6 linked regions of the Homo sapiens genome follow. Changing the gene in region 6 together with the main gene of any one other region gives a genetic interaction. Each region holds a gene or a part of one and is shown on either strand. Other genes may lie near its edges.

Region 1 (4,776 bases), on a different chromosome or scaffold from region 6:
ACAAAATGCACTGGAAATTGCCTTTCTTCAACCTATTTGTTTGAGCATATTAATGGAATAAAACATTCTTTTGAATCTTAAATTGGATGACAGTTACAATAGCAATTTAAAGACCTCTCAGGAACATTTTATCTCACTGAAGAAAAATTTCAGAACATTATGGAAAATTACATCTCAGGAGGCTTAAGTCTGAATCATCTAGCTATTGGCACATAGTCATAGGGGCATGATTCAGACCATAATTGGTTAAGGTATTTCCCTCTTAGATCAAACTATTAATAGTGTGTAGTACAACTAGTACCATAAGAATTGTATGACAAACACAAGTTTTCAAAAATAACATCATGTACTTATCAGATATTTGAAATATTATCTGGAATTACCAGAGTTCATTGATTTGGTATTTCACCTAAGCACAAATTATTTTTCATAAGTTCATTAGATTTCTTTTTAAAGATAATGGATAGAAACTAAAAAGAACAATGATTCACCATCAGGCTATATTTGGGGAAAAGTCGCATGGTTACTAGGTTAGAATGATGAAAACACTGGTACCAACATTAAGATACTGACACTGGAGATGCTAACACAATGATGTTTATGTGATGATAATGAAACATTAGTGTTGCATCAGCTTACTCCACCACTCTGCTGATGGATATTGCTGATTGAAGGCTAAGCATTAAAGTCACGTGTATTCTACTTTGCCCAATAGCTTACTGTAGTTAGAATGGTCTTATGAGCTAACGCCAACAAGTAAATAACACTTTACTTAGCCAAAGAAGAAAATATTCAGAAGTAATCTCAGAACTTCACATAAAAAGTGAGTGACACTGTGTACATGCTAGGTGACATAAATCCTTGCTGAACTACTTTAATCTATGCAGTAGTGGTAGAGTAGGTTCAATATAGCCACAAATTATTTGCTGCTACTTCTACTGAGAGTTGGCATCTAATTCCCTTCCCTTTAAAACTGAGCTGGCCTTAGTGACTTAACAATAGAATGCTGTAGAAGTGACTTTCTTGGATATCTGATGATAGGCAAAAAGCCTGGCAAATTCTGCCTAGGGCCACTTGTAACATTGTCTTTAGGAGCCCTGAATTACCCAAGTAAGTTATATCTGACCTATTTGAGATCACCATGCTTGAGAGGCCACGTGTAGGTGTTCTAGTCAATAATCCCAGCTGAACCCAGTCATCCAGCCATCCTTAACAAGGTGCCAGAGATGCAAATAAAGCTGTCTTGGACTGTCTAGATCAGCTCATTTGCCAGATGAACCCCACTGGGCCACCTCTGTCAATGCCACATGCAACAGACAAATCACCTGTCTGAACTCAGATCAAATTCATGACTTACAAAATCATAAGATGTAATATAATGGTTGTGGTTTTAAGCCATTAAGTTTTGGATTAGTTTTCTACACATCAGTAGGTAACTGGAACAATTAATCAGAAATCTCTGATATTAAACCACTATCAGAATTGACTTACCTTGCACCAGCCAATGTAACAACCAGTTGCAGTGCGGATGGAAGCAAAGCCCATTTGTAAATGACCAGGCTGCTCTTCAACATATTTAGACTGGAGCGGTGGTGCAGTATATATGGGGAGCTACAGGCAAAAAATGTTCATGTCAAAAACATAAAATAGCTGGACTGTCCATAACAGCGGTATGGCAGAACAGGAATCCTCATCAGCCTTCTTTCTAAAAACAACTAAAAATGCTGATAAAATACTTTTAAAAAACCATCTTAAATACAGGAATGATGTGGTAAACTGTTTATAAAGACCGTTTAAAACCCAGAAATTAAAAGATGCCAAATATAATATAATCCAATGGTTCTACTCCTATGTATATTTAGAGAAACTACTGTCTTTGCACACCCAGAGTTAGTATAATAACGTTCACAGCAACATTTTAATTACAACCAACCCAATGTCCATCCACAGTAAAATGGATCCTTTGGGGTATATTCGTACAAAGAAATATTAGAAATTAGGGGGTAAATATAAAAATTACAGCAACATGGAAAAATTTGGATGAATTTCAGGAATATAAGGTTACTTAAAAAAAACATTGCTTAGCAATACAGACATATAAGGTAAAATTAAAAAGTAAAGGAGGGGAATAATAGTAAAAATTCAGGGTAATGGTAACCTCTGAATGGAATGAAATGGAAACACAGAGGATTTTGTTTTCCTTTAAATTGGGTGCTAGGTATACGGTTGTACATCATTATCATCATCATATTATTATTCATACCTTTCATATTTTGAACAGCCTTTTGATTCTAATTAGTATTTAATAAAAACAAACATACACAAAAGAACAATGAAAAACTTAACCAGGTAGGGACTTACTTCCTTTAAAAAAAAATTTTTTTTTTTTTTTTGCTTTTATATTTAGGGTATAAATCCTCCTATGAAGCCTGGTGTTTGAGGAAGATAGAACTGGGAAGAATCAAGTTTACAAATCAACATCAAGGGAACTAGATGATTAATGACTTTGGATTTGCTCCTCTACCAACAACAAACATGAAACTATAGTTAACACTATATTGTTTTCTTGAAAAATGCTAAGAGTGGGTATAAAATGTCCTCAACACAAAAATGATAACTATTCAAGGTAATACATATGTAAATTAGACAGATTTAGTCATTCCACAATGTATATATACTTCAAAGCATCATGCTGTACAAGGTAAATGCATACAATTTTATGTCAGTTTTTTTATCTAAAGTTAAAAAATAAATAAAACATAAGACAGTGTGAGTTTGGTAAAGCTTTTCCAGTAGTAAGTCAGAAAAGTCTTGTTTTACCATTAAATGACTCTTTACTACCCATACCAGGATTAAAGAGTTAGTGTTTTATCTTTCTGGACTAATGCTTAAATTCACCACATTGGCAACTATGTATAATTAGGAAGGTGAGAGATGCATATCTTATTAAAGATGCGTTTTATATATAAAAAGCAGGTGCACTGCAAATAGGCAAGTTTCCTCTCTCCCCTAGAAAGGAGAGGTATATGTGGATGTACTGGTGTCAGAGTGGGCAACGTTATTTACTTACATGTTTGTCCATCATGTTTCTATCCTCTTTATTATTTACACATCCCAATTCCAAACTTTATTACACTCATTGTTCTTATTCTCTCTCCTCTGTCCCCATCAAAACCTGCTGATTAAGTTGTTTTTTGTTTGTTTGTTTGTTTTTTGAGACGGTCTTGTTTTGTCATCCAGTCTAGAGTACAGTGGCATGAACACAGCTCACTGTAGCCTCAACCTCCCGGGCTCAAGCAATCCTCTCACCTCAGCATCCCGAGTAGCTGGGACTACAGGCACACCCCCAACAAACCCGGCTAATTTTTGTATTTTTTTTGTAGAGATGGGGTTTCACCCTGTTGCCCAGACTGGTCTCCAATTCTTGAGCTCAAGCAATCCGCCCGCCTTGGCATCCTAAAGTGCTGGGATTACAAGCATGAGGCACTGCGCCTCACGGGTTCAGGTTCTTTATCTGTTTGTTGCCTATTATAAACAAAATTTTGTATATGTAGTTTTCTAGGAAGAGCATTCAAAGTTTTTATCAGACTCTCAAAGGGGTCAGAATGGTTAAGAACCAGTGTTTTAAAGTATTTTCCTTCTAAGGCATAGGCATAGTTGAAACGTTTATGATGATAGGATTTCAGCTCTACTTTAAGAATTTTAAGAGCTAGCCAGTAGCATGTTACTATAGCCTCCATTGAGAAAAGCATTCTCACTACAAATTTTAGAGACCTTGGGGCTTAAATGCCACTTATTGTATAGATAGAACTTGTATGTTCTCATTTAGAAATTATGATTACATTGAGTAAGCTATAAAACCACATTTAAAATTAAATTGAACCAAAGTAACTAAAACTCTCAAATCAGTATTTTTCTGTTATTTCTCAGTGACAACAAGCAAATGGCAAGAAAATAAGTATAATTCATCTCATAGAGGGATTTTAAAAAGAAATGTCCAGGGATGTCTAGGGCTGGCTGTATACATGCATTCCAATTGCCAGTCATTTTACTGATCTGAATACTACAGATTTCATGGTTAAAAAAAATGATTGTCTCATGGTGCTACAGAGTTTTCTATTAAAGGGAGATTTAATTATGTTCACTAGATGGCATATAAGGCAGGAATATATTGAGAATATTTAAAAAGATGTTTAGTGAGAAGAGTTGAACTAAAACAGATTTTCTGTTTAGCTGCAAGTTTACCAAAAGATTCAAACAACCAAATAACCAGAACACTTCATTCATAAAGTATTCTGGTTTAGTAGAAGTGTTATTACAGATTTAAACAGAAGTATAGCTCACTTTACACAATAAAAGTAGCTAGAAATGTTGCGCATAAATCACATTTTAATCCCTTCAGAAATTCTACATTCCTCAAGGACTAGATCCTGACTTTGTGTATAGTTCCTAGCACATAGCTGGCAACAAACTTTGTTTGATAAGTAATTCAATTAAATGATATTTAAAATGTACTTGGGGAATACAATAAATACCAAGGAATACTGCATATTCCATAATAAGCAGCACTACTTTATTTTAAAATTTCAAAAATTAAATTCAGCCATTAGGGATTTATCTTCCTACCTAGATTTGAGCTGTCCAGATATGGGAGTGTCAAGGAAGCCTTAAAATCAACATCCTCCTAAGATTAATAAACAGAAAAAATAAAAAAATACTTAGAATCAGTTAGCGGGTAGGGAAATGAGTCTACCCCAGACCATTAATGAAAATAAA
Region 2 (5,278 bases), on a different chromosome or scaffold from region 6:
ATCTGTCAGTTTGGGGGCTGACTCATCCTGAGACCCTCAATCCCAAACCAGGTCTTCCACTGGTGGCTCAGGCTTTTACACCAATAAGATAATCGCAGTGTCATAGATCTGATTTTTGAACTTACAGGAAGTGTAGTCCAGGCCATTTACAAAGCTAATTTCTTTCACTTTACTACAAGAATGCTTGGTGACTATATAAATTACAAAATAAGACTGAGAAAAGACTAATCAATTCCATGGGAAAAACAGTGGTTGGGTTGGGTTTTCTGACTGTGTACATGTTGTATCTAACTATTTCAAGGCAGTTCCTTCACATATTACTATTAACGATTGATTTACTGTGGCAAGGTTGAGAATCCTTGGGTCATTACCACAGGTATGTGGGTCTGTGCAAAAGAAAACACAAACTTTGAGAGGGCCAGACCTGAATTCACTAACATTGAAAACAGTAAAACCTATCATCTTTGGATCCTTCTGTATCTCAGCAGTTATTTACAAACCTATGCATCACCCATGCCTCTATCTTTTCATCAATTAGGAGTCCTGCTTGTTCTATTTTTAATACCCATTTTGAATTGTGTTACTTATCTTCTCTATTGCTACCATCCTAGTCCAACCATCATATCTCACAGCAACAATTTCCTAACTCCTTGCTTTCTCTTACCCCTTCAATTCACTGTCTACATAGCAACTACGTGATTTTTCTTAAGAAAATCGAAACTCCTTACCATAACTTACAAAATCCTACATTAGCTGTCATTCCCTACCTCTCTGATTTCACAAGCTTCAATTGATCCAACTCCCTTGTAACTACGAAGACAGACTGGCCTAAGAGCTGTTCCTTAAACATGCCAAATTTGTTTTGTTTCAGGACATTTGCACTAGCTATTTTCCTGGATACTTGCCTCCCAAGCATTTGTACTGTATTTGGGTCACAGCTCAAATGTCAACTCCCTTGAGATGTTTTCCCTAATCCGCTCTAAAATGGCATCCTGCTTCCATCACAATCTCATGACTCTGCTTTATTCCCTTTACAGCACTTATCACTAAAGGCAATGTTTTAATTTATGTTTGTTGGTTTACCTCAGTATTATGTAAGCTCTGTGAGCGCAAGGGTCCTCTTTTCAAAAAAAAAAAAAAAAAAAAAAACCCACAAAAACCACTATAGTCCTGCCCCCAGAAAAGTAGCTAGCACACTGTAAAAGCTCAGTAAATGGTGTTCATTCCCTGGTCCCCCAATTTACCTTCAAATCTTAATCAAATTAATTTAACAATATTGTCACATTAAGGAAGTGTATATGCCCTTTGTGCTCTGAAACTCAGAAATACTAAGATTAATATGAAACTGTGTTCTAAACAGGTAAAGTAGTAGCTCAGGCCTAGGAATCCCAGCATTTTGGGAGGCCGAGACAGGAGGATGGCCTGAGTTCGAGAGTTTGAGACCAGCTTGGACAACACAGGGAGACCCCATCTCCACAATAAGTCAAAAAAAAAATTTTAAAAATTAGCCAGGTGTGGTGGTACGTACCTAGATTCCCAGCTACTTAGGAGGCTTAGAGGGGAGGATTGTTTGAGCTCAGGAGTGCCAGGCTTCAGTGAACTATAATCATGCCACCGCACCCCAACATGGGTGACAGAACGAGGTCCTGACTCTAAAAACAAACAAAAAAAAAACGAAACAAAACACCATGTGTTGTAGATTCAGTTTTTTGACAAAGGTGACACCAGGGAAATGAAAGGTCTTTTATATTTTTTTGCACTAGAGTCAGTCTGAACATATTTCGTTGTTGTTGTTCCTTAGTATAAAATACCTAGAGAAATATTACAAGGATTCTCTAAAAAGAAAGTACTTTCGTAAAGGCTTTATCCACGACCAACTGCCTATCTTTAGGTCCAAGTTCTATTTATCTAGTTGAACAACCACAGTTACAAAGTACCAAAGTTCTGGAAAACATATTCACAAGACCGAGGAGAGGCAAAGGCAAGATATTTATGCCTCTGTATACCTTGATGTTGCCTATTTCCTTTCCTATAATTCTTACCTGGCTTCTTTCTTCATGTCTATATATCACCTTTAAAGTTCAGCTTACTTCCTAGCTCCTAAAGAAGGTTTCCTAGCCTGTCCCAAGTCATATTTATTTCTCACTTACATGCAATATTACTGAATATTCTGCCCTTACGGCTACTTGGAGGCTCAGAATATGTCACTGTGTACTAAAAAGTTAACTACGGGCTTGCTATTTGGAATACATTTACTCCCAAAGCTGGGCTCTACTCTTAAGGGTCAATCACACGGCCCACCACACACAAAACGTACGAGGCTTGGATATAAACCTAAGAAAACATGCATCATCTCGCGAGTCCAGGTCAATCACGGACAGCTTCCCCAGGAGATCCGTGGCCCTTTTTTAGGCCTTTCTATCTTGAAAGAGCAGCCATGCAGATACACTAACCCCACCACTGGTACTTAAGCTTGTAAACGCCAGCAAGGAAAAAAAAACCAACAACATAAAACATGGGACGCGCAACTTTAGTGTAAACGCAAGAACCAGTCAGAAATAATCGCAAGCTAGGCCCCATACTTACGCGGGACGCCAGCCAAATCCGCGTGCGAGTAACCTGCTTCGCCGGCTCCGAAAAAGCCGGCCAATACCCCTGTGGTTTTGTCGCCGCTTCCCCCGCCTCCTTCCATGGTATCGCAGCAAACCGAGTGGTTCCCGCCGCTGCCTCAAGCCTGGGTGGTCCGCTGGGCCGTTACTCCTCAATAACAGCGGGTAACCCCGCGTTGCCAGCGCCTACTTCACACGCTGACATTCCGGGCGCCGGTTCCCGTTAAGCGCCACACTTCCGCTTTGCGGCAGTGTGCGCCCCGGAAGCCGGAAGCGCCTGACGGCAGCTTTCCGGTGGTGGGAAAGTGAACGAATCCCGAATCAAAGCGGCGCATTGAGGCAGGTGGGGTGCCAGTGGAAGAGGGAAGGCAGGCGAGTGTTTACGGCCTGACTTGGGAGGCCGGCGGATCAGCAATTGCAGAAGCAGGCAGCGGCAGAGAGGGAATGGTGCAGGCAGGCGCTGAGAAGGAGGCGCAGTCCATCTCTCTCAGGGTTAGTGAATGAGGCTCTCCGCCCGGGCCGGCCCGGGGACAGTGCGCTGCTGGTCCCAGCATGAATGCGGGCCCCGGCTGTGAACCCTGCACCAAGCGACCCCGCTGGGGCGCCGCTACAACTTCGCCGGCTGCTTCGGACGCCCGGAGCTTTCCCAGCAGGCAGAGGCGCGTCCTCGACCCCAAGGACGCTCACGTGCAGTTCAGGGTCCCACCGTCCTCGCCAGCCTGCGTCCCAGGGCGGGCGGGACAGCACAGAGGCAGCGCCACCTCGCTTGGTACGTGGGAAAATAAAAATCTTTGTCCTTCGCCTCGGCCCGAACCTTCTGGTCTCAGTCTGAGGACCCAGGGGCTCCAGTCACTCCTTTCTGGTCTTGTGTGCATCGTCACTCTTGAGGTCCACTTGCTGAGCTACCAAAGCCACTAGTGGGTGAATGGGGCCGCATTTTTCCCAGTGCGATTGATGTGAGAAACTCTGATGAGCAGTCACTCACAGGGCGGAAAATGGCAGGAGACTCCACCACCTGTTTGCTTCTTCAGGTTTGATTGAGAAATTGCCTTAGTCGTCAAGGAGATCTAATTGTGTATGTAAAACAGTAGGGCGCTTCAGCCTCTAGATAGGAAGAAAACAACTTCACTTGTTCAGATTCTGGGTCCCAGGGTGCAGAGCTATTAGTTTAAGCTGGCATTGTACCCGTCCCTGGTATACAGTGTTGAACGAGAGAAACTTGGCCTCTGCCTTCATACCTTAAAATCTATCTGGAGAGATAGACGATAGCAAAAGTTAATATAATAAAAGGTAATGGATGTTCTGATAGATGAATGACAGATTGTTTTACCTAACTGAATTTATGGAATCGAAAATAGTCCTCCAGAAGATGAGATGCTTATTCTGAGGACTGTAGAATGAGTAGGAGTTAGATGAAGAGGAAGTAAGAAGTGTTTCAGGAGTGCAACCGAGGCCGGGCGCGGTGGTTTTGCCTGTAATCCCTGAGCTTTGGGAGGCTGGGGCGGGTGGATCACCTGAGGTCAGGAGCTCAAGACCAGCCTTACCAATATGGTGAAACCCCGTCTCTGCTAAAAATACAAAAAATTAGCCTAGCGTGGTGGCGGGCAACTGTAATCCCAGCTACTCGGGAGGCTGAGGCAGGTGAGGCAGGAGAATCGCTGGCATCCGGGAGGCGGAGGTTGCAGTGAGCCGAGAGGGCACCATTGCACTCCAGCCTGGGCAACAAGAGCGAAACTCCGCCTCAAACAAAACAAAACAAAACAAAACAAAAACAGGAGTGCAATTGATATATAGAGTGAACGCAAGAGAGTGTGAGAGATGAGGCTGCAGGGTGGTACAGAAAAGTCAGATCAAATTGGATATGTAGACATTGCTAAGGATTTTGAACTCTAAGGGCATTGATAAGCTACTCAAGGGTTTTTAGTAGGGGAGTGACTTGATTAGACTTATTTATTTGTTGAAAAGTCTGTGTGGCTGGTGTGTGGAAAATAAAGAATGGATTGAAAAGGAACTCAAGTGGAGCATCAAGACTCAGTTAAGGAGTTAATCTAGGTTGGAAATAATTGTAGCTTAGGCCTGGATGCTGGCAATAGGGAAGGGGATGGATTCATGAAAGAATGGGATACTTGAGAAGAAATATTTCTGTGCTGGAGAAGTAGATTGGGGAGTTCGTGGCATAAACATTATAATGGATGCTATGGGCATAGATAACATAAACATGTAGAGAAAGTAAAGGTGACCTAGGGCAGATGCCTTAGGAACACCAAAGTTTAAGAGTAGACTGAAGAGAAGCGGCTGTAGAGGTGGGAGGAAAGCCTGGCTTGTGTTGTGTCAGACAAAGGAGATCATTTCAAAAAGGATGCATTCGTTAACAGTGTAAGAGGCTGGGCAGAGCTCGGGCAGTTCTCTGGTGAAGAGTCTACACTTAGATGTCTTCATACTTAGGGGCAGTACCAAGTAGACTTGCACTAGGCCTTGAAGGATGAGGAAGATTTGCTGTATAAATCAAGAGGAGAAAGAATTATACATGCAGAGGAAATAAGACATGCAAAAGTTGGTAAGACTGGAGCATAAGATGACAGAGGAGTGTCTGATGAGGCTGGGTGGCAGACAGGAGCTTATGAAGAAACTCAAATTCCATTTTAAGGAATTTCAACCTTATTCTGTGG
Region 3 (4,776 bases), on a different chromosome or scaffold from region 6:
ATGGGGGCGGCCATCCTGTGTACCATGAGACACTCAGCAACTTCCTGGTCCGCCATCTTCCGATTATAGCAATCAAAAATCCAAAAATGTTCCAGACACTGTCAAGTGTGGGGCCGGGACAGGGTGCGGAGGTGGAGGAGCAAAACTGCCCCCAACCAATGAGAACTACTGATCTAATCTAATCATAAACTCACCCAACATCAGGAGAAAAGTCTGTGCCAAGGCCAGATTCAATCAAGGCTTTGTAAAAGGGAGAATTGGGCCCAGAAGTCAAGAGTGAAGACAGAAGACTTAATGTGAAGGCTTCAAATGTGTCGGTGATGCTGCATTGAAAAAAAAAGGAACGGGGAGGTAAGAAAAGAGTAAAGGGAAAATTACTGGCCCTTATGCACATTTTATTTAAAACCACTACACATCTTTCTAGAAATTCTTGCATTTCAACATTTAACAATTTTATGAGCAGAAGAGAATTTTCCTTAAATACCGGGATTTTTGAAGGGGGGCACAAACCATCAAATTAACTTCACTGCACACGAAATGCTCACCATGGGACAGCCTGCCAAGCACTTTTCACACGTGATTTAAATCACAGGCACTGTGGCAGCACCATTAAGGAGACAAGGAACAAGCCAGGAGAGGTGCCAGCCACGGAGCTGCAGGCTGAGCACGGGAGGGCCCAGAGCCCAAGCCTTCCCTTCCTGAACACCCCCGGGCATGGTTCCGACCTAGTCTCGTGAAACCACCGGAATTACAAAGTTTTGTATGTGATATATTTTGCCGAGGTGCATGTTCATAGTACCATTCTCACACTCAAAGGGACCTGTGACCTCAAAATGTGAGCACCTGCTGGTCTGAGGCAGTCTTTTCTCTGTAGGAATAAAGCTTTGAAATACAATAAGTAAATTACTTTTCTTCCGGAGGGCTATCAAAAACGATTTTCCTCAAAAACCATTTTGGATGTTATTAAAAACTTCGACATTTTGTTCTCTATTCCTAAAATCCACTTAACCCCTGAATCCTAACCGTATATTAATTAACATTCAATTGTAGAACTCACTTCCGAACCTTCTAATAGGAACATTTTCCTCATGTTTTTGTCTTGTATGAGCTTTGACAGCATATACTTACTCCGGTAAGAGGAAGCTAACGCTGATGGTTGTTTGTTTAGAGGGATCTGTAGCAAATGAATCCGGGCCACATGTTATCTGGAATTCCCTCTGTAAAATGACGTGACGTTGTGAGTAGGCACAGTGTCTGACGGTTGTCAACTACTCTAGGTTATCTGGATACACGAAATGGAGCGAAACAGGCTTTCCACTAAGTTAACTTTCCTTTCAAACAAATTACCATTCTTTCAGCTTGAAAAGCTCTCCCATACTCTGTACCAAACATGACAGCATCTGAAATCCCATCATCAATACCCAGTCCAAGTCCTCATGTCAACATATTTACCAGGAAGGACACAAACACGGTGGGGCACTCACAGGCTTGTCCCAGGGTGTCTGAGCTGGCACCACGGTGCTTGGTTCAATTTTCTGGAATTTGCTCAGTGCTTCCTCGTGAATTTGTTTCAGATGCTGTTCTAATGGAAAATTACCGTACGTGAAGAACCTAAAATTTTAAGGGAATATAATTAGTCTGTTTTAGTTTAAAAGATGTGAGATCAAGTGCTGTCTGTTTCACTGAAACACAGCACAGGAGTGCCCCTTACCCAAGGTCTCGCCTTTCGGTTTCAGTCACCCTTACTCAACCAAGGTCCAAAAATATCACGGTACTTCGAGAGACCAAAATTCATGTAACTTATTACAGTATATTGTTATAATTGTTCTATTTTATTATTAGTTATTGTTGTTAACCTCTCGCTGTGCCTAATTTATAAATTCAACGTTCATTCACAGGGCATGGTGCTATTCCTGGCTTCAGGCATCTGCTGGAGTGCAGTGGCACCGTCACAGCTCACTGCAGCCTCAAGCAATCCTCCAGCCTCAGCCTCCTCAGTAGCCGGGACTACCAGGACTACACCACCACACTTGGTTTTGGTGGGGGGTTTTTTTTTTTGAGATGGAGTCTCGCCCCGTCCCCCCAGGCTGGAGTGCAATGGCACAATCTCAGCTCACTGCAACCTCCGACTCCCAGGTTTAAAAGATTCTCCTGCCTCAGCCTCCCAAGTTGCTGGGATTACAGGTGCCCACCACCATGCCCAGCTAATTTTTGTATTTTTAGTAGAGATAGGGTTTCACCATGTTGGTTAGGCTGGTCTCGAACTCCTGACCTCAGGTGATCCACCCGTCTCAGCCTCCCAAAGTGCTGGAATTACAGGCGTGAGCCACCGTGCCTGACCGGCTAATTTTTAAGTTTTAGAGGTGGGTTCTATGTTACCCATGCTGGTCTCAAACTCCTGGCCTCAAGCAATCCTCCCATCTTGGCCTCCGTAAGTGCTTGGATTTGCAGGCATGAGCCACCACACCTAGCCAAAAATCGATCTTACATTTTAAACTTCATCTAGATGTGACAAAAACCAAATGAGGTATTTGTTAAAACACTTTATAACCCTAGGTACAGTAATATAGTAATCCAACTGACAATTTCACAAAACTCAATTTTTGGCAACAAATTCAAGGTTATACACGTTTATAAAGATAACACATTTATTCAACCAGAGGAAAAAGGTTACAATGACAGAATTTATCTTTTTCTTTACTATATAGCCTGAGCTATGGTTAAGGTTTGGGAAACTAGTATCTTACAGAACCTTCAGAAATTTCTCACTCTAGAATTTAGAAACAAATTTTACACACTCGGGGTTGAGAGAATCCAGGAGCAATCACCACCCCTAGTGTTCAGATGCTGCTCTCCAAAGACCCTTCCCCATTAGCCACAGAAATCAGAGCTCCCTGGGGAAACAGACAGTTGAACCTCTGGAGCAGGGAGGGCCCGGCTGTGCGTGCATTAGGGAGGTGGGGGTGGGGGCGTAGAAACCAAAGAAGTTAGACCAAAACGGGCCCACAGCTGGGGCAAATGTGGGCATAAAAATGAATAAATTCCATCTGATCACATAATCTCAAATATATACATATACAGAAATATTTCTGTGAGGTCAGAGTGGTACTAAAAAACAAAACAAGACTGGGGAAAAAAAAAAAAAAGAAGAAAAGAAAGAACTCTCTTCTCCATGTTGGGCGCAGTGGCTCACACCTGTAATCCCAGCACTTTGGGAGGTCAAGGTGGGCAGACTGAACTCAGAAGTTCAAGACCAGCCTGGGCAACATGGCGAGACTCTGTCTCTACAAAAAAATATAAGCACTAGCTGGGCATGGTGGCGTGCGCCTGTAGTCCCAGCTACTCAGGAGGCTGAGGTGGCCCAGGAGGCTGAGGCTGCAGTAAGACAAGATCATGCCACTGTACTCCAGCCTGGGGGACAGAACCAGACCCTGTCTTTAAAAAAAAAAAAAAAAAAAAACAAGACAGCCTCTTCTGTCACCATTAAAAGTAGTTCCTGCACCACCCCTCCTCCTCAAACTGGACTTCCCAGGGAGAGCAGCCGGCCCTGCCTTTTCCACAGAACCATATTTCAAGATAACCCGATAGCCCAGCTGATGTGGAGCTCTTCTTTGAAGAAGTCCAGCAAACAAATGAAGAAGTTACAGAACTAGAAAACTTCGCAAACTCTAATAAAGTAATTGATTCAGGCAATAATCCTCAATGAATATGAAAACCATTAATAGGTTGATGAGGAACTCATTATCACAGGACACCAGAAACTCAAGCCCACCAGATGGTCTGTGGCTGAAGGGAAAAAGCAGATCTTCCCAAGGCAGTGGCTGACTCTCAGCATGGACCCCGCTGGTGTGAGATCCCCAGTGGAGGCGAGCAGACCTCACATGATGGTAGGATGTGGCCGTCTATGGAGAGCTCCCCATGAGGGACTCTGCTTACAAAGGCACAGCCTGACTCAAACTAAGTCTTTGGATCTAAGTTCCAGTGCTCAGGAAACACAGGAACATGGCACCCAACACCAGGCGGGAACAGCCAGGCCACCTGGAAAGTGAGTGCGCCAGAAAGAAACTGGGCCTGCACACTCCTCTGCCGTCCCCTAGAGGGTGCCCAGGAGAAACCCGGGCCGACCAGGTGTGACCTGTGGGACCCCGTGCAACAAACACTTTGGGGCCAACTAGAAAATCTGAATATGGAATAAGAAATAGGCAGTTTTAAGAAAGTATGTTTTATTCTATTAAAACTGAAAATGGCATTAGCTCATGTAAGAAAAAATCCTCACGTTTTAGGGTCACAAATTCAAACATTTACGGGCAAATGATCATGACGTCTATAATTTACTTCCAAAAACTTCAGCAAGGGAAAGGATATCTATTACATGATAAGTGTTTAGGGGCTCATTATTCTAGTATCTCTACTTTTCTGTATGCTTCAAGTTTTCATAATTATTTTTACATAAAATAATCTTGCAAATATGTTTTTACATTAGCATTCATATGTAAATACAATTAGTGTTTTATATAAGATATATGACTATATTATTATTATAATGACCTTGTATTAGTGACATAAGAACAAGCAATGTATCAGAAAGTGAGGATGTAATTAAGGTTCAGTAACTGCATCCACTATTGGAAGAGCACTTCTCCGTGCCAAGGAGAGGGCTTCAAGCTTCACACCCCGTGTCAAGGTGGGCACCATCCATGCACCCCCACTTTCCACGCAACCAAGCTAGATGTGAGGCAACAGGCTGCGGGGCCAGGACCCTCCTCTGGGGGACTC
Region 4 (4,153 bases), on a different chromosome or scaffold from region 6:
GAAGGGACAGTTGCGATCAGTGTTTGCTTTCTTCTTCTGAGCAACAACTCTAAGAAGTTAGGCCAACCTCGATCATGTAAAAAGTAAAAAACTTATCTAAAGCCATCTTGGGCTCAATAATGTCCCTTAAATTCTCTGGGGTTGTGGGGATAGGGGCTTATACACAGCCCCAACAAGAGTTTTACCTTTAGGGAAGTTTGAAGTCCTTGACTAATATAGGATTTTGGATGACATAAGGCTGTGTTATATACCTGACACAGTAAGTACAGTAAGTATTGTCATATTCATGCCCACCCATGTGAGAAACTTATCTGTCCAAGAAGGAAATCTTAGCCCTATCATAGTCTTAAAAAATGACCATAGTCTGAATATAGGTAGCTGTTTGCTTTGGATCTGTAGTATTATCTGCTCTCAGTCTTCAGGTAGTTAAATTTTAAGTGTACTTGTTTTCCAAGACTTGGAAAAGGAGTGACACAACTTCTCTAACAGATGTCTATGCAGAAATCCTAGAAAAGCCCAGGGTGGATCAGCAGACCAAGCTGGAGGCAGAGAAACTAAAGGTGCAGGCTCCTAAAAGTTGAGGTCTCTCCATTTCCCAGGCAGATACTCTGAGTAGGCGTTAGGTCTTTTGCTCAGAGGTTGGTGCATTCTTAAGGAGCTAGGGGTTGTTACTGAAACCAGTGACATCTTGGTCACCTCACACACTTGTGACTAGGGACTGTAAAAGTTCTTTTTATTTTAGATTTTTTTCACATATGCAACATGAAGAAATCATGTGGCTTTGTGTGTGTGTCTTACTATGTTGCTCAGGCTGGCCTGGAACTCCTGGCCTCAAGCGATCCTCCCGCCTCTTCCTCCCAAGTAGCTGGGACTACAGGCTGCACCACCATGCCTGGCTCATGTGGCTTTTTCAAACAACAAAATCATTGTGGCCTGTATTGCTTATGACACGTTAACCACTATGCCAAGTACTTTAAATCAGTGCTTTTTCTTTTGAGACAGGGTCTTGCTCTGTCACCCAGGCCAAAGTGCAGTGGCACGATCTTGTTTCATTGTTAACCTCTGACTCTCAGACTCAAGAGATCCTCCTACCTCAGCCTCCAGAGTAGCTGGGACTACAGGCATGCACCACCATGGTTGGCTAACTTTTAAATTTTTTGTAGAGATAAAGTCTCACTATATTGCCCAGGCTGGTCTCAAACTCCTGGACTCAGGCAATCCTCCCACCTCAGCCTCCCCCAAAGTGCTGGGATTACAGGTGTGAGCCACTGTGACCGGCCACATCAGTGCTTTTCAAACACAAACAGGTGCAGAGGAGTCACCTGGGATCTTGCTAAGATGCAGATTCGGATTCCCTAGGTCAGGGGTGAGGCCTGGGATTCTGCATTTCTAACAAGCTCCGAAATGATGCAAGTGCTACTGGTCCTTGAACCTCAAGTTGAGGAGCGAGACTTTATGTGGATACACTAATGTAATTCTCTCTGTAATCTTAGGAGATCCTTACTATTATCTCTATTTAAAGATGAGAAACCAAGGCACAGATAGCAATTTTCCCAAGGTCACATTGGCTAGAAGCCCAGCCCTGGATCTAAGGACTACGCTATGTAACCTCCTGCACTTTACAAGTTTAAATGATAGAAGGAAAAGTCTCATTTCATTTTATTGTTAAAGCTAAAACATGCAATACTATGGTTTTCTATTTTAAATGGTATTCATAACATGAAGATTTTGCTATCCATAACTGGAATTTTTATTAAACACTTGAGAATTTATATGATCTTATTCCACATATATAGTTACTCTTCCCCATCCCCTACCCCCCAGTACTCAATTCCAAAAGCTTGCCTGAAGCATGTGGTCAGACGACTCTTCCTGATTTTTTGCTACCCTTCTCAAATAACTGGAAAATGGACCGTGCACCCAGGGTATCTGGTTAGTGTGAAGAAGTGGGGTGCAGCGTGTAAATCAGAATTCAAGTAGTTAGAAACTGGTTATGTAAATCCTTGCTATTTGAGTGTGCTACTTTGAAGTACACTCTGTGATCTGGCAGCATCAGTAGCACTTGGGAACTGGTTAGAAATGCAGAATTTTAGGCCTTGCCGCAGACCTGCTGAATCGGAATCTGCATTTTGACCGCAAACCAGATGATCATATGCATTTAAAAATTTGAGACTACTGATTTCAATCACGACTTGATTTAGATTCATTCCAATATCTGAGTCTCTAGAGCGTTTTGAACTTAAAAACAATAAGGGAAAGCACTGTCTTTACTAAGCAGACGTTTTCTTTTCCTCCCTGCTGCACTGCAGCTGCTGGGTCTGGCAGGGCCCCGGCCCTCCCGATCCCACCACTGGCGCCTCCCGGGCAGGACCCGAAGGCTGAAGGGCCTGCACTGCCCCGCACTGCGACAGTGGCAGCCGCGCAGGCCGCCACAACCCTCCCGCGGCCGGCAATGTTTTATTTACTCCACCGGGCCGATCCACCACGCGGACTGTCGCACGTGGGCACCGTCCAGCCCGGGAGGCGCCAGGCAGGGGAAGAGAAAAGAAGGCCTTGCGCTCCGGCCATGGGCACCGCGGGCTTGGACCTTAGGCCCAAGGCCCTCACCTTCAGCACCAAGTCGGTCAGGTAGACGACAGTCCAGCCACCCACCACCACCACCACCAGCGACACCGGAATCATGGCGGCAGCGGCGGCAGAGGAGGGAAGGCGAGCCCCGGCGTCCTCCTCCCTGCACCGCCAACAGCTGACCGCGCGCGCCTTACAGCCCCAGCATCCGCTCAGGAACCAAGCTACCGCCGGCTCCTTCCTTGCGGTGGCACGGTTTCCCACCGGACTCTTCCAGTGGGGACATACAGGAGGATTTGCTAGTACCGGAAATGGCACGGGGGCTTATTTTTGCGGGCGCTCGGGCGCTGCCGTCCAGGCAGTAGTTCGAACTCGGCATCTAGTCTTGTAGCGATTTCTTAGGCTTTGGCCCTCCCTGCTGTCTACTCTCCATTCTCGCCAGTTCTGGTCAGGGGTTTGCTGTTTCTTTTAACCCATGAGGATTTGGGGTCGTCTGAAGTAATAATCTCTCCCTCCCCGACCCTGTCATAGATATCCAGATTTAATTGTTTATCCTTTTTACTGAAGTGTAAATTTACATGTAATGAAATCATACATACAGAGCTCAATTGTCCATTTCTGTGAGTTTTGATAAATATATATATATATATATATACGTGTACCCTAATCAAAATGGAGAAAATTTCCCTCTCAGGAATTTCCTTCTTGCGTCCCTTCCTAGTCAGTAGCCCCTCCCCCTGTTCTGATTATTTTTAACTTTATGTAAATAGAAAGCAATAAGTACTCTTTGTGTCTGGCTTGTATCGTTCAACATGCTTTTTGAAATTTATCCATGTTGATTAAATTAGGCTCTTTTTTCAACCTTTTATAATATTTGAGATGGTGCTATGGTTAAAAATCAGAACTCTGAACACCTACACATTTTAACGTTAATGTATACCTGATTATATATTGAACTAGAGCAGCAGTTCTCAACCTTACCTGCACTTTAGGATCACCAAGGTCTTTTAAAATTCCCGATGCCCGTTCTGTATCCTCGACCAATTAAATCAGATGCTCAGTGGGACCCAAGCATTTATACTTTTTAAGCTCCTCAAGTCATTGCACTGTGCAGCCAAGGTTGAGAACCACTGAACTAGATAATCTCTAAGAGAAAAGAAAACTATTTATTGGGGTTTTTTTACGTTCTATTTATGTGCATCTTTAAAAGTTATTTGTTTCAACTTTTCTGGAAAAGCATCATTAGCTATAATAATGCTAATACCAAAATATTGAGAACATAATACTATCTCAAGAACAAGTATCCCAAATAAAAATGTATCCTCAACCCCCTTCCAAGTGAAAATATACAATAATACCAGAAACCTATATTACAAATATTGCTACTAATTTGCCTCATTCTCCCTGCTTTTCCTAAAGTTTTACTCACTTAGGGACATGTTTCTCCAGCTTCAAGACAGCTTATGACTGTTTTACATATCTTTGCCTATTTGTGTGTGTATGTGTTGTTATAAATTATTTCCGTTTTCTTTGGACATAGCTGGGTGTAAATTATAAAAGTTTGTATTCAAGCACCCTGTTACTC
Region 5 (4,774 bases), on a different chromosome or scaffold from region 6:
GGAACACCTGCCAGTTCTGCAGAGGAAATCTGCCGTCATCAGTTTCTCCATCAGGCCTTTTGCTCAGATGTCTTCCAAACAGTGCTTTAAACATTCAGTCAAAAACTGAGTCAGTCTCAGGCCAGCTTAAAACTAAGCCAAAACTAAAGGTCTGAGAATATAAAGAGTGGAATTGTGGGTTTTGACTATGAACTATAAACAGTAAAACATTTATAAGCTCCTTTAGAATATGCAATGCTTTACTGAGATGGCTGTCTACATTTTTAATATTTGGGAGATAAACTTACAGAGAAATTTAATAGAAGGCATTATCACTTGAATGTTGAGCGAAGGCAATTATGTAAGGGTTGGGTTGGTAATTCCTGATGGAGAGACTCTTTGTCTCAACAATAAAGGATCCTGCTCTGGTCACCCATCATTAGCAATGAACTCAATAGCTACAAAATACCTTCCTATTCAAGGTTGAGGTGAGATTTTTTTTTTTCCCACAGACTAAGTTTAACAAGCGTGCTTCAGTTGAATATTAAAGCAAAAATATCCTAAGTCAGGAGGTCAAAGAGAAGCTTTACCTCACAATCTTGGGCTAGGAGGGAAAAACTGAAACAAAGCAATAGTCTCTGTATGTGTGTCTAAATATGTTTTGGCAATCAAATGAAAATGCATATGTAAGTGCTGTATGTGAACTCCAAACACACATTTAAGCAATTTATAGTGTACTTAGTAGCAAGGAAAAACATGAGTACAAATTGCAATCTAATGACATACAAAAATATGCTAAGGAGCATAGACTATTTGGCCATTAATTAAAATTGTCAACTTGAAGATTTAAAACAAGTCCTTAAAACTGGAGAAGTCTACATTAAATTTGTAAAAATGTAATTTATCTCACAAAGATTTCTGAGTTAGCCAGATCAGTCACTGACATAATACAACAAAGTTAAAGCTTTTGTTATGTCTTGCTGACCCTATCTTTTAAAATCTACTTCTTCATTGACTTCTTTGTCCTTTGGTTTGGACATCTGATTACAGAAATAGTTTTCTGCAAAAGTTAATTTTAAAAAACCACGCTTGGTCAAGATTTTCAAAGTTGAAATACTGCAAAATAACAACACAAAACAGAGTTTTAAAAGTTTAACTTTATTTTTTTTTACTAAAGTTCAGAAATTTCTGTAAGACAAGTACATTAATGAAATGTTTCCAAAGAAATACTGAACAATATATACTCTAGTTTGCTGAGGTTCCAGCTCGAGTTCAAACCTAATTCTTGTGCAATAAAAATCAGCATGGATCTTAGATGATCTAGAATACACTGTGTTTTGAAATCCACAGCTGGTTTCATTTTTAACCATTATGAAAAACCAGTACTCCTATTCCATCAAATGTGTTTTATAAGCAATAATAAATTCAGATCCACTGTATTATGCAACATACATCTTTGGAAAGCAACATAAACAGTGAGATCAGATCAGTAGAAATATACACAGTTAAAAGAAATACACAAAGTACTGTAGTTTTATTAAAAACTACTACTTGAGAAAGAAATCTTTCCACAAATAGCATAAAACTGTAGAATGATGAAAGGATTTGGGAAAGCTTTACAAAAGCTTAATTCCAATTGTATCTTCCTGAGGGTGGTGGCAAAGGGTATTTCCTTCCTTCTCTGGGATATCCCTGAAAATAAACAAAAGAAAGAGTTTATTTTCTGGACCGATACTCCTGCAAGTCAGTTAACTTTAAACCTCTATGGAAAAACACATCATAAGGAAACTGAGTATGTGTTAAAGGTACAGCACATGGAAAGGCCCCATAAAAGGTGCTTTGATCCAGAGCTTTAATACAGACTTGTTGCAAAGTTGGAGGCTAGCACAAATGCTATTACTGAAAAATAAAACAAAAAACCTTAACAATCACAAATGCACACAAATAACTAAAGTGTTCTGTGTAAACAACATGTACAGACAGTGGTTCTCAATTTTCTCACTGTCCTAGCAGTAGTAATTCAAGTCACTTTGTGGTAAGATACCCACATCAATTTAGACTTATTACACAAGGAAAGTAACTTTGCTTTAACCAAGGCAAGAGCTTGCTAAGTCAGTTAAGGCCAAATGAGCAATTGATTTTAGGGATTTTTTATTTAGCAACAAATAGTAGGGCTTTAAATGACATATTAAGGTTATTACACAATCCATTAGCCGTGACCTTTATAACATATCCTAGTATGTTTGCAAATAACATTTCTGTATAACAAAAGATAAACCTGACACCTCTTCATTATAAGTCCTTTCCTAGGCCTCTAGGGTTTTGAAATGGAACCCCCTCCCACCTCATTTTGCCACCCAGAGAGCACTTCAGTACTTTAAACATGAACATGTGCAGACTCAAGGCCAGAATGCAGGCTAAGGCCTTGTTTGGTCATATAAAACTTTACTAAAAATACAATGAAGTAATGATTCTATGTTTTTAACAACAAACTTCTGCAATTTAATAGTGCTTCAACAATTGTGATTTAATAAAAAGTATCTCCCTGGCAAAGGGACTGAGAAAGAAGAAATGTTATTTTCAAAAAGTCCTAAAAGAATAATAAATTTACCAATTGGTTTATATCTTCTAAGTAAATAAGAATTTTACCTCCTGTAACAGCACAGAGTTCCTTTAAAAGGAAGATCTCCAAAGGAGAGAGGAAAATGGATGAACTGGGGTCAGCAGTCTAGGCAGCCAGCTACCAGTTCTCCTGCTGAACCGTGTGGGGTTTTCAGGGTTTCAGTTCCTGACTTGGAAAATGAGGTGACTAGACTACACATTCTCCAAGGTTTCTTCCAGTTACAAATAGTCCTCACTTCAAAAATGCTCATCACTGAAACGGCCTAGTGCCATCTAACCATAGTAACATAAAGAGCCTTAGTTCACTGACACGATTTTTAGAGGTCCTGGGCTGAAAGAATTCAAAGCAAAATTCGATAAACTGATTCAAATAAACTGTAACAAAATCTCAGAAGAAATTATTTGCAATTAAGGTGATTATCTTCTTGTAAGGTGGAGATACTTGTAAGAATACATCAAAAAACATACAAAATATGTTCCTTAGCTGTGAGAAGAGAGGTCTTACTAATTAATATGTGAAGCACTGCAAAAGGCCTGGAGGCAACACCAGGTAAGCAATTTAAAAACCACTTCACATCACTGCAGGTGCCAAACTCCATACACATTACTCTGAATCACAGCATTCTAATCTTGTTCTCTAGTAAGGATTCCATTAAGAGCATGTAAATACTGGCCAGGGTGTCAAATTGCTGGAGGAAATTATGTCAAATAGACCTCAGTCTTAAATGCTGCTAAAACTGGATGCTGTAAAGAGAAGGACATGAAGCTTACATATACTAAATTTGTCTAGGAATTATGATAGTCATTCAGTGATACAGCTGCTTACATTGAGAAGAAAAATATGTGGAAGATTATCAAGCAGAAATTTCTTTTATGAGGAGGGATATCAGATGAATCAAGGCAGGAGACTTCTAAAATGACAACATTGTAAAATGACTTCTAAAAGACAACAGCTGAAAAAGCAGACTTACTTTCCAGCTTCCAGAAAATCATCACCCATTAAGAGGGATCTAGGTTCTATTGAAGAACAATATCCTTAAAGGAAAAACAATGTGTTTTGGTGACTGACTATACTTGGACTAATTATCACTGACTGCTATGATTTAAAGGGCTTTTGGGTTAGAAATTCTTTGGCATCTTCAAGGTATATAACCTATTTAGTGAAGCAGGTACTCAACCCATATACATTTTTAATGACAGACCCAAGTTCAGCCAAGCTACTCTAAGCTACTCTATCAGTGTCTTCTCCAGAAATGTTGGTAAGAAAATACGGAGTCCTGTGAGGCTTGTTGAAATATAAAGTGAGCAGTATACTTTTCATCCCACAACCATTTACCTGTCTCCCTCCACGATCATCTCGTCTGGGTGGATACCCACCAGGCCCAGCTAGCATCTGGTACTGGTTTGGCTGGAAGGCTGCATTCTGGGTTTGCAGCATCCGGTTCCATGGGAGCAGAGGTTCAGCCCCAACGCCTCTGTAGGAAAGTACCAGTTTTACATCAGAAGCCACACCTATTATACAGCACAAAGCCTAAAATCGGCAGGTATCATCTCCAAATTTTAGTACAATCCAATTTACCTGGATTTATCATATGGGATACAGAGTATCAGAATGGCCTTTGTGTCCCTTATATCCAGTATAATCTAACATGTTTCATGAAGCATCAGCATTTATTACAATGGATGTTTAAACTCAACTGAGAAGTTCTGACTTTTAAAAGTTATTTTGTTCATTTTCAATTGGGAAATTTCCTTTTTAGTCACTTAAAGATGTAGACCCAAGATCACCAAGATGGCTACATTTAAGATGCTATCCAAAGAGTAAACATGTACAAGACAGGAGAATGAGGCTTTATTTTCAAAAATGTCCAGACTCGTTCTTGGATCCATTCTTTCTACTTAATTGCAGGTTGCAAATGAATTCTTACTGCTGAGTATTTTGAATCCAGGGTAGGAGACTTGGCTGTTTTTTCCCATCCATTATTCTGTTCAATATGTCAGAAGGTCTGATTGGGAGGAAACCTTTTCAAGTTCTATTGATGCAGCTTTCAATTGACCACGGTGACCTAGCAACATGAGCACTAATTGGCATGGGCTGACTGGCATTTGGTGTACAGTTTACATGGGAACACAGATTCAACGGCTATTATAACCCAGTTTGCTGTCGCAGATT
Region 6 (4,776 bases):
ACTGGATCAGCAAGAACATAAAGAATCATTTAGCTGGTACAAAGTTGCAACTTGTGAATTCCCTATTAACACCAAAGAAGATGTGTGAGACTCCATACTGAAACTAAAGACGACTTGTGAGTTCCACACTGAGACCAAATAAGTCTTTATGATGGTGACAGAGAGTGGTGTCAACGCCTAAAGTTTTGGTCAATCTCTCTAAATTGAGGGGCTGACCAAAAGGGGGAATTGTTAAAGCGAACTAAATATGGCCCGAAGAGGACTCCGTACTTTTATATTTGAGTCCTTGTGGACGAACTGTAACCTAGCTCAAATAGGCAGACAAAATCGAAAACCTAACTTAGTAGTATGCATCTGTAATAACAGCTGAGTGTTGGCCAATCCCAGCGGCCATACTTCAACCACTCATAGACTGCTGAGTGTTCAAACTGCGTTCAAATAAGGCAAACGCCGAGCTGTAACCAATCTCACTGTTTCTATGTCTCAATTCTGATTCCTGTAGGTCACTTTACCTTTTCTGTCTATAAATTTGTTCTGACCACGAGGCACCCCTGGAGTCTCTCTGAATCTGCGGTGATTCTGGAGACTGCCCAATTTGTGGATCATTTTTTTTCTTTGCTCAATTAAACTCCATCAAATTTAACTTGTCTGAAGTTTTCTTTTAATTCTATGTTTTGCCCAAGGTAGAATGATTAGCAAATGGTGGAAAAGAGATTGAAACTAGGGTCAGCCAGACAGTAAATCTCAAATTATTTCCACAAGCGACACTTGTGGGCAAGAGTGTGGGAAGCAGCAGATGCAGAAATACATGTGGCCCCAGATAAGAAGCTAAGGTGACATTTTGGACTCCCTGCCACTTCCTCCAGAGCCCCAGGATGATACTGCACCTTGCTGTGGTTCAAAACTCCATAGGATGAAGTGTGATGGAGGTTTAATAAATAAAACAAAAAAAGAAACCAAAAAGAAAACCAAAAAAGTACAAAAAAAAAAAAGAATAAAAAAGAGAAAGAAGGGTGCAGAGCTGAGACAATGAAAGGGCAAGAGACCCAAGGAGCTGGCATAGAAGGCTCATAGGAGGAGTAAAACTGGACTGAATATCCAATTGAAGAGTCACTGAATATAAGGCTGAGGCTTAACTTTTTTTCGTAGGCAATGGGGAACTACAGAGTTCCTGAGTAGAATAAGACTAATGAAACATTAATTTAAAGAAAATAGTAAAGATAATGTTAGGTCAAAGTAAATCAGAAGGGGAACAAAAAGGTGATCTTATTTCAGTTACCCAGATGTAAGGGGAAGAGCCTAAAGTTAGGTGGCAGCAATGAGAAAGGAAAGGGAAAGGCAGATACTCGCCAGACTAGGCACAGGAGGAAGGACAAAGGAAAGTCACCAATCACCACAAGGTTTTATCCAGCGTGACCCATGTTATCACTTACAGAGAGGGATATCAACCAGAGAAAGAGCTCATGGTTCCACAACGTTTAGCTCACCCTTCTTTCAACTACATCCTTACATCCATTTAGTCTATTGAGTCAGAAGAACTCTGGTTCCAATCACATTTCCACTGCTTACTAGCTGTGCAGTTAGGGCAAATTATGAATTTTCTAAAGCCTTAGTTTCTTAATCGGTTAAAATGGCATAATAGCTGTATTAGAGAGTCGCCATCAATAATCAATAATCTGATATTTCTTTCTTCTCCTTACCTATTCACATCCTCCTTATCTATTCACCCACTTACCACCTTAGATTATGCGGTTCATCGTTTCAATAACTCTTTTGCAAACATTCTAAACTCCCTCGTCCTCTGACTTTTCTGTTTGACTTGTCCAACAAAATACAAACCCTACATGAGCCTTATTGTTTTTCTCTCTGCCTGTACCCAGGGAAATAAAGCACTACTGGAGAAAATCACACCCAACTGGAAGCACATCTCAACAGGGCCCTCAAAACTACTTAACAATCCTACTTCATCTCTCTTAGCAATTCATTCTTCCACTCTCTGCTAGAAGAGCTCTTCTAATCTCCCCTTATCTCTCTTGACCTCCCCAACTCTCAGTAGATGACCTTGCCCTCTACTTCACAGAGAATGGAAGCTATTAGAATGACACATGTTCAACTTCCTCATACAAAAACTGTTCACCTACTGTATCTCCACCAATCCTCTTCTTCCTCATGTAAAATTAAGCGATCTTTCTCCCATTAAAGGTGAATCACTGTTTGGAATTCTCTTTCCTCCTGCCCTTTGAGGAATCTAAGTCAAATCTCTCCTCCCATATTTATTTTTTATTTTTGAGACAGGGTATTTATTTATTTTTGAGACGAAGTCTTGCTCTGTTGCCCAACGTGGAGTGCAATGGCATTATCAGGGCTCACTGCAGCCCCACGTATCTGGGCTCAAGTGTGATCCTCCTGCCTCAGCTTCATAAATAGCTGGGACTAGAGGTGTGTGCCAGCATGCCCAGTTAATTTTTTTTGAATTTTAGTAGAGACAAGGTCTTGCTATGTTGCCTAGGCTGGTCTCAAACTCCTGAGCTCAAGCGACCCTCCCTTTCAAAGTGTTGGGATTACAGGTGTAAGCCACTGCACCTGGCTATGTCTCATCTTAAAAGGGGGAAAAAAAGTACCCCATTTCCCTGCTCTAGCTATTTTATTAAAATAAAAGCCAAACCATCCTGATTTCCATTTCTTTTTTTTTTTTTTTTTTTGAAACGGAGTCTTGCTCTGTCACCCAGGTTGGAGTGCAGTGGCTCGATCTCTGCTCACTGCAACCTCCGCCTCTGGGGCTCAAGCGATTCTCCTGCCTCAGCCTCCTGAGTAGCTGGGATTACAGGGACCTGCCACCACACCTGGCTACTTTTTGTATTTTTAGTAGAGACAGGGTTTCACCATGTTGGCCAGGCTGGTCTCGAACTCCTAACCTCAGGTGATCCGCCCACCTCGGCCTCCCAAAGTGCTGGGATTACAGGAGTGAGCCACTGTGCCCAGCCTGATTTCCGTTTCTATCACTTCAGCGAAACAGCTCTTACGGAGGGCACCATAGGCTTCCAATGGCCATTTTGCTCAATTCTGGTTTTATCTGACCTCTCAGCAATACCTGACAATGTTGACACCTCCTCATTGTTGAAAATTCCTCTCCCCTGGGCAGTCTCTAGCTTTACCTCTATCTCACTGGCCACTCATTTTCAGTATCCTCAACTACCCTTGGAAATGTTGGGAACTCATCAAGGCTTAGACCTAACCTACTTCTCACTCTCCCTAGGCAATCTCATCTACACCCATTTCCTCCATTACCATCCACATACCCATGTTTCTCAAAATTATGTCTAATACAGTTAAGTTCCCCCTTTTGGTCAGCCCCTCAATTTAGAGAGATTAACCAAAACTTTAGGCGTTGACACCACTCTCTGTCACCATCATAAAGACTTATTTGATCTCAGTGTGGAACTCACAAGTCGTCTTTAGTTTCAGTACGGAGTCTCACACGTCTTCTTTGGTGTTAATAGGGAATTCACAAGCCGCAGCCTGTACCAGTTAAATGATTCTTTATGTTCTTGCTGATCCACTTGGAGCGAGACCATTCAACTGTCAACGTACAGCTGCATACAAAACATTTAAGACTTGAGAGTATACAGAGCGCCAAGGGGACTATTATTGCGACTATTAAGAGGATACCATCAAAATGCTAAGGCGTACTCCTTGTTGTTATTCAAAAACAGCAATCAAAGAACAATAGAAAGTGTACAGAATTAAACATGTCTTTAAGAGTTTTCTTAAAAGTTCATGGAAATGAAAAGTTGCAATGCTCAGTGCTAGGTGTCCTCTAAAAGGAAAAATAAAAATAAAAAAATTAAGTTGCCGCCAAATGCAGTGGCGCACGCCTGTAATCCTGGCATTTTGGGAGGCCAAGGTGAGAGGATTACCTGAGCCCAGGAGTTCGAGGCCAGCCTGGACAACACGCCAAGATCCTGTGTGAAAGAAAAGAAAAGAAAAGAAAAGAAAAGAACAGAAAAGAAAAGAAAAGAAAAGAAAATTAAGAAAAGAAAAGAAAAGAAAAGAAAAGGAAAGGAAAGGAAAGGAAAGGAAAGGAAAAGAAAAGAAAAGTTGCGATGGCCAATATTAAAAAAATCAACAGTAAAACCATGAAATGAATTAAGGAAATTCCCCAGGACATAAAATGCAAAAAAAAAAAAAAAAAAAAGGTGAAAAACATAAGAGGAAAGTTAAGTGATGCAGAGCTGTGGTAATGTGGTATCCAAAGGGAGTGGGAGGATGGGGGCGGAATGCATCCCGTGGGATGAACAAAAGGATCTACTGGGATTCAGGAAGAAAGTACTGAAGCTTCTAGATGCAGTATGTTTTGTATCTTATCCTTTAAGATTATGTTAGGGTTGACTTACAATGTAAATAATTAGTACAGATACATATATAATTTAAAAATAAAAAAGTGTGCATATATACATAGGGTATATGTATGCTTTTCCTTTTAACAGACGACGAGTACAAATCTTACTTTGGAAATCACGGACATAACATATCAATCTAAGAGGACCACTATCCTCCTAAGAGATGTCTAGAAAGAAAAAGGACAGGAAAAATGAAAGGAAGATAATAAAAAATAAGAGAGAAAAACGTCTCAGAAATGAAGAAAGATAAAGGGAAAGGCCCACTGAGTGTGCCAAGTCAAATGAGTAGCAAAAGAAAACAAAACCAAACCCACACCTGGTCCAAGCCTTGAGAAATTTAGGATAAAGGATAAAGTCAAGACCCTAACAGATTCCA

Evidence for each region.
Region 1: changes in OPA1 (region 6) and APOOL together harm fitness more than expected from each alone (negative genetic interaction), as found in Homo sapiens cells (one large-scale study listed by BioGRID).
Region 2: changes in OPA1 (region 6) and TIMM23B together harm fitness more than expected from each alone (negative genetic interaction), as found in Homo sapiens cells (one large-scale study listed by BioGRID).
Region 3: changes in OPA1 (region 6) and PITRM1 together harm fitness more than expected from each alone (negative genetic interaction), as found in Homo sapiens cells (one large-scale study listed by BioGRID).
Region 4: changes in OPA1 (region 6) and MBTPS2 together harm fitness less than expected from each alone (positive genetic interaction), as found in Homo sapiens cells (one large-scale study listed by BioGRID).
Region 5: changes in OPA1 (region 6) and XRN2 together harm fitness less than expected from each alone (positive genetic interaction), as found in Homo sapiens cells (one large-scale study listed by BioGRID).

The regions. Positions count from the first base shown.
Region 1 is NC_000023.11:85,048,224-85,052,999, reverse strand, and holds part of APOOL (MICOS complex subunit MIC27 precursor), read right to left. Parts: intron 1,612-4,776; coding exon 1,492-1,611; intron 1-1,491. UniProt on the Homo sapiens protein: Component of the MICOS complex, a large protein complex of the mitochondrial inner membrane that plays crucial roles in the maintenance of crista junctions, inner membrane architecture, and formation of contact sites to the outer membrane.
Region 2 is NC_000010.11:49,939,609-49,944,886, reverse strand, and holds the start of TIMM23B (mitochondrial import inner membrane translocase subunit Tim23B), read right to left. Parts: upstream 2,835-5,278; 5' UTR 2,693-2,834; coding exon 2,587-2,692; intron 1,653-2,586; exon of another isoform or gene 1,529-1,652; intron 1-1,528. Other genes in the region: PARG (poly(ADP-ribose) glycohydrolase), read left to right, coding at 3,162-3,378. UniProt on the Homo sapiens protein: May participate in the translocation of transit peptide-containing proteins across the mitochondrial inner membrane. the PAM complex.
Region 3 is NC_000010.11:3,158,720-3,163,495, forward strand, and holds part of PITRM1 (presequence protease, mitochondrial isoform 2 precursor), read right to left. Parts: intron 1,612-4,776; coding exon 1,485-1,611; intron 1,218-1,484; coding exon 1,129-1,217; intron 324-1,128; coding exon 195-323; intron 1-194. UniProt on the Homo sapiens protein: Metalloendopeptidase of the mitochondrial matrix that functions in peptide cleavage and degradation rather than in protein processing. Has an ATP-independent activity. Specifically cleaves peptides in the range of 5 to 65 residues.
Region 4 is NC_000023.11:21,838,264-21,842,416, reverse strand, and holds the start of MBTPS2 (membrane-bound transcription factor site-2 protease), read right to left. Parts: upstream 2,801-4,153; 5' UTR 2,683-2,800; coding exon 2,608-2,682; intron 1-2,607. UniProt on the Homo sapiens protein: Zinc metalloprotease that mediates intramembrane proteolysis of proteins such as ATF6, ATF6B, SREBF1/SREBP1 and SREBF2/SREBP2.
Region 5 is NC_000020.11:21,386,170-21,390,943, reverse strand, and holds the end of XRN2 (5'-3' exoribonuclease 2), read right to left. Parts: intron 4,077-4,774; coding exon 3,938-4,076; intron 1,672-3,937; coding exon 1,606-1,671; 3' UTR 1,119-1,605; downstream 1-1,118. UniProt on the Homo sapiens protein: Possesses 5'->3' exoribonuclease activity. May promote the termination of transcription by RNA polymerase II.
Region 6 is NC_000003.12:193,595,617-193,600,392, reverse strand, and holds part of OPA1 (dynamin-like GTPase OPA1, mitochondrial), read right to left. Parts: intron 1-4,776. UniProt on the Homo sapiens protein: Dynamin-related GTPase that is essential for normal mitochondrial morphology by mediating fusion of the mitochondrial inner membranes, regulating cristae morphology and maintaining respiratory chain function.